Linked DNA regions of Homo sapiens: region 2 is linked to region 1. The links come from fine-mapping of genetic effects on gene expression. A gene starts in region 1. The other region holds a variant in brackets. All regions are shown on one strand. Distances are from middle to middle. Region 1 holds the start of GTF3C5 (general transcription factor IIIC subunit 5). Region 2 holds the start of MIR6877 (microRNA 6877).

What was found. PIP is the estimated chance that this variant, and not a neighbour inherited with it, causes the effect.
Region 2: its variant is fine-mapped to the expression of GTF3C5 in whole blood (TOPMed, PIP above 0.99).

The regions. Positions count from the first base shown.
Region 1 is chr9:133,029,466-133,032,447 of GRCh38, reverse strand. GTF3C5 (general transcription factor IIIC subunit 5) reads right to left here and starts at 1,451. Exons shown (of 11, transcript NM_012087.4): 1 at 1,284-1,451. The coding sequence starts at 1,436. It overlaps LOC105376306 (a long non-coding RNA gene), which reads left to right and starts at 2,026. Exons shown (of 2, transcript NR_135119.1): 1 at 2,026-2,298. RefSeq lists enhancers at 1,431-1,690, 1,135-1,786, 2,021-2,270.
Region 2 is chr9:133,050,382-133,052,881 of GRCh38, reverse strand. GTF3C5 (general transcription factor IIIC subunit 5) reads right to left here. Exons shown (of 11, transcript NM_012087.4): 4 at 1,904-2,099; 5 at 718-822. MIR6877 (microRNA 6877) reads right to left here and starts at 886; the gene lies at 823-886. The variant C/A (reference allele first, on the strand shown) is at 972.

The DNA.
Region 1 (2,982 bases):
TTGTGCCTCCTTGCCCTTAGTTACCCGCTCTGTTTAACTGCCCTTCCCGCCGAAACTAGTCTTCCCACCGAAATCGCTCGTCCCGTCACTGTAACCCACACCCCTGTTCTATTTAAAATAGCCAATTGAGATTAGCTTAGATTGTGTGGTCCAACTCCAACCAGCAGGGACAGGACACAAAAACAGGGACTGACTGCCTTAGGGATAAAAACCCATTCCAGGCTGGGCACGGTGGCTCACGCCTATAATCCCAGCACTTTGGGAGGCCAAGACGGGTGGATCACCTGAGCTCAGGAGTTCAAGACCAGCCTATAGGACACAGTAAATTCCACTTCAAAGATTTTAGCCTTTTACCTTCCTTTAAATTCAAGAGGGGGAAAATTAATAAATACAATGAGTTATGAGTTCCATTTCAAAGAACCAATATGTCAGTATGTTCAGCTTCCCTGTTCTTTGTTCTCCATTTTAAAGTTTAACCCCTCGTTCTTTACGCCTCCTTGCCCCTAGTTTCAGTAAACAACCCCTTCCTAGCTTCTATCACCTGCTCTGTCCTTAGTCATCCTGAGTCACCTGCTCTGTAACCATCCTTCCCACCAAAACTACTCACCCCGCCACTCAGGCCTGTGCCCCTGCCCTCTTTGAAATAACCAATCGGAATTAGCTTAGACTGTGCGGTCCAACCCTAGCCAATATGGGAAAGACACAGCAGTAGAGACTAGCTGTGTAAGAGATAGGAACCCCTTCCCCTTCCTTGTCGGTGTGCTCTCGCCATTGCTCCATCCGCAAGATGCACCCTTCTATAGAAGGAAATTTGCCTTGCTGAGAAAACTGTTTGCCAGAGTGCTGATTCTTCTTTGCGGCACCCAAAATTTATTTCCAACAAGCCTGACCAACATGGTGAAACCCCCTCTCTACTAAAAAATACAAATTTAGCCGGGCGTGGTGGCATGCGCCTGTAATCCCAGCTACTCTGGAGGCTGAGGCAGGAGAATCGCTTGAACCCTGGAGGCGGAGGTTGCAGTGAGCCAAAATCGCACCACCGCACACCAGCCTGGGAAACAAGAGCGAAACTCCGCCTGAAAAACCAACAAAAAAACAAAAACAAAAACAAAAATCCTTCCCTTCTTTGTTCTGTTGGCTCTCTTGCAGCGGCCAGAAGAGCGAGCAGCACCCTTCTGCGTAAGTAAATTTGCTAAATTTCCCTTGCTGAGAAATCCTTTGAGTGCTCGTTTTCTTTGCGACTCCGAGCTCTTATTCCAACACCGAGATTCCCAGCCCCTTACCCGGGAGACGCCTTCCTCGCCGCCCAGAGTCGGCAGCATCTTAGCCACATCACGCACCACTCCCGGGTACTCCACGCACACCATGCGTCGCTCCCGCCTCAGCTCCACGGGGACGGCGGCCCCCAGCCCCAAATCGGCCGCCTCCGCCGCCATCCCTGTGCGTCTGGCAGGGCCCGCCAGGGTCCGTCCCACAAAGTACTCCCAAAGGCCTCGCCTCAATTGTTCCGCGAAGGAATCGTTCCGGGCTCCCTCACCGCTCGCGTCATCCTAACTCCCCGGGCTCAGCAAGACGCGAGGGCCTCCAGGGAGCAAATGGCCCATGGGAGGGCCCATGTCTTCGGGAAAACGACCGCCGTGTCCTCGACTTTTTATTTAAAATTAAGCGAGTTAGTCCACCGGGCGGGGCAAGCACCAGTCTCTCCTACTAGCCAGCGAGGGACCCGGAGGATAATAAGACACAAACCTCCCTCGACTTCAGCCAATGAGAATCCGAGGGCCGAGCGAGTTTTTTTTTGAGCCAATGAGAAGTCCGGAGGAAGCTAGGTCCCACCTTCTCCTCCAGCTTCGTACGTTTTAACCAATAAAGAACTAGAGTTAACCACGTCCCAGCCCTCTTCTGGGTATTCCACCCAATGACACCTCGGGGGCGGGCCAGAGGCAGACTTCCGGCCCGCCTGCTTGGTGGGGAAAAGGTCCCGGCTGAGAATTGATTTCCGCATTGGGTCGGCCTGGTATTCTGTCGGTGTTGGCGCTTCTTCTCCCAAGCTCTTGCAGCCCCCTCGGGACTAGGTTTCCAACGGCGCTTGCGGGGGGCCTCGCGGAGGTGGATGTGGAAAAGGCGAGCGCGGGGGAACTGTGCTGTAACCATCGCCCCGCCTCCACAGAAAGCCCCGAAGCGCCGGCTCGGGGCCGAACGCGGGCATCCGGCGTTCGTCTGTTAGGCAGGCAGACATTAAGCGCCTACTGTGTGCTGGGCCCTACTCAAGACCCAGGCGGGGAGAACGGCGTCTGTCCGGTAGGCGCCCAGGGCTGCTGCAAAGCCCCGGAGCGAGGAGTGTGGCCCCTCAAACAGGGAGGAGATGAGGTCCGAGGCCGACCGAGGTCAGAGACCCGCACCCACGAAAAGGGTCCACCCGTCGGGCTGGCTGCTTCCCAGTGCCGTGGAGAGCCCCTGAAGGTTTCTTTTTTTGAGAAGGAATCTCGCTGTGTCGCCCAGGCTAGAATGCAGTGGCGCTTTCTCGGCTCACTGCAACCTCCGCCTCGGGTTCAAGCTATTCTCGTGCCTCAGCCTCCCGAATAGCTGGGATTACAGGCGCCTGCCACCATGCCCGGTTAATTTTTGTATTTTTAGTAGAGACGAGGTTTCACCATGTTGGCCAGGCTGGTCTTGAACTCTTGACCTCAAATGATCCGCCTGCTTCGGCCTCCCCAAGTCCTGGGATTACAGGCGTGAGCCACCGCGCCTGGCCCCTTGAAGGGTTTTATGCGGAGCAGTGATCCCATTCATGCATTTGAAAGACCTCTCTGGCTGTTGTGTGGAGAACAGATCAAAGGGGGAGAAAGTGAGTTCAGATAAACCAGCTCCGAGACTGCATAATCCAGTCAAGAGATGAAGGGACTGGGTTTGAGAATATTGGGAGATGAGAATCATGGCCCAGCACAGTGGCTCACGCCTGTAATCCCAGCACTTTGGGAGGCT
Region 2 (2,500 bases), 21 kb before region 1:
CAGCCTGGGAGACAGAGTGAGACTCCATCTCAAAATAAATAAAATAAATAAAATAAAATAAAATGCCAACGCCAAGCAGCACAGGTCGCTCTCCTGAGCCGGAAGTCCAACAAGGCAGAAGAAATGAGTCTTTCTTGTGTCCTACTGCCTGTTGCAGACCCTCACAGTCATGTCTTACGCTGGCCTCCCCTAATGCTCTGTGAGGCCTGGCAGCGGGGAGGATCCCTTTCCAACCAGCACCTTTGGAACCTCAGTAATGACATGTGTCTTTACATGCTTGTGGATCAAAGGTGGATCTGCCTCCCACTGAACCCCACTCAACACAGGTAGAGGACGACATGGGGCCGCTGTGGTCAGGGGCTGGGTTCTGCAGCCCAACAGGCTGTGGAGGGCGCCCTGGACTCAGGGAGCTGAAACTTTTCTAGCTGGCTTTAATAAGCTGTCTTAGGGATGCTAGGATCGGGGGGCCAGGACAGGGGGGAAGGAAGGATGGGGGTGCCAGGACGGGGGAGGTGCTAGGTTGGGGGCAGGGCAGGAAGGATGAGGGCCAGGCCAGGGGTGGGTAGGAAGGATGGGCCAGGATGGGGGTGGGGCAGGAAGGATGGGGAGCCAGGATAGGGGGTTGGCTGCTCTTACTGTGGCTCTAAGACATCACAGCAGGGACCAGGGACCACATGGGTGGAAACCAAGGCAGGTGGGTGGGCAGCTGACACTTACCATGTAATAGGCTATGAAGGGAAGCAAGACCTTGAGCTTGTCTGGGTGGACGCTGATGTTGGCCTTGACAGCATTTCGGGACCAGATGGGACGGATGTCAAACAGCTGGGGAGGCCAAGGGCAGAGGCTGAGATGAGCACCAGCAGCTTCCACCCTTCGGCCCTGAACTCCCAACATGTTCTGGGCCCCAGCGGCCCCTCCAGAGAGGAGCTGGTAGAGGACAGGGGCTGGACACACAGGGCGTGGCCCTAGGA[C/A]CTCCTGCTCTCACTAATTCATCCCTTCCCTCAGAAGCCTGGGCTGCATGCCCAGCCTGTGCCAAGTGCAGTTGTGGGGCTGGGTCTCTCAAACGATAAGAGACATGGTCGCTGTCCTCATAGAGCCCACAGCGCGGTGGGGAGTACGGCTCAGGGGGCACATGCTAGAGTCCCAGGGTCCCCATGCTGCCCCAATCTACAGAACAGGTGCCTGAGGTGGGACATCGTCAGGGCTGAAGGGGACAGCCTGGCCCGGGGAGGACTGCAAAGGTCAGTGTGGCCGGAGTGTAGAGGGCCAGGGGGCTGGGGCAGCGGGCCTCACGAGCCAATTCAGGTCAGGAATGTGGGCTGTGCCTGGTGGGCAATAAGGAGCCACTGACAGTGTGCCCCAGTGACTGCTGGAAATCAACAAGACATCCACGTGGTCTCCCACAGGCACACTGCGTAAGGGAAGCGCCGGGCTCCAGGTGGCAGTGGCCTGTGAACCTGATGCTCATGCCAGTGGGGACGCAGGACTCCACGGCACCCGCAAGCCCGGGGAAGGAGGGCTGCCTGGCAGCACGGTTCCAGTTCTAACGGTAAGAAAGTGCTGGGCCTGGCACACTAGGTGCCCCACTGGCTTGGCTGCAATGAGTGAATGGAAGAATAAGAGCTCAGTGGATCCCAGAGCTCCACGTTTATGTCACATCTGAACAACGCACGCATATTTTTCTTAAGAACTCTAAGAAGCATTTTCAACCTTGGGAATGTAGAACTTATACCGACACAGCCTTTAGACATGGCATCTGAAGGTGAGAAGTTCCCATGCACTAAGGAATGGGTAAAGGTCAGTGCAGCCAACCCCACAGCCAGGAACAGGGAGCAGCTGGGTAAACACGGGAAGCCAACAGAGAGGCTGGAGCCACCGGGGCCAGGCGCAGCGCAGGACTTGCCTTCCTCAGCTCCTCCTCCACCTTCCGGTCCACGGGGTTAGTGCAGACTCTCCTCCACGTCTGGGCTGCAGCCTCCAGTGGCTGCTTGGGCACCTCCTCATCCTCAAAGTTGACAAAGATGGCATTGTGGGGGCGCCGGGCTCTGCTCAGGCCAATCAGATTCTCACCTGAGATGGGGGGATTGTTGTAGCCTTCCCTGGGGGCAGAGAGTACAGGTGAGAACAGGAGCACCAAGGCCATCCCAGGCACCCGCTGGGCCAGACCAGGCAGGGAGCCCAGAACCCCCCAAGGCCCACAGCCACCGTGTGCCTCTCTCTGGACATCTGTGCTGGGAAAGGACCCCAGAGTTGGCTGCTAAAGGAACCTGTATTCACAGAGGAAGAGACGCAGCCACAACTGCCTATGACAACTCAGAGAAACCCTGGGGCCTGCAGCTCTCAAACTGGGGAAAGGCCAAAAGGTCCTAGAGGCTGGAGTGCAGGAAAGGGCACCTGTCATGGGGCTGGTGGCCCCAAAAGTGCACTGAGTCAGGCACAGCACTGTCCAGCCAGTGAAAAACTGGACAGAGTCTAATGTCCAGCAGCTGGCAATGGTGAA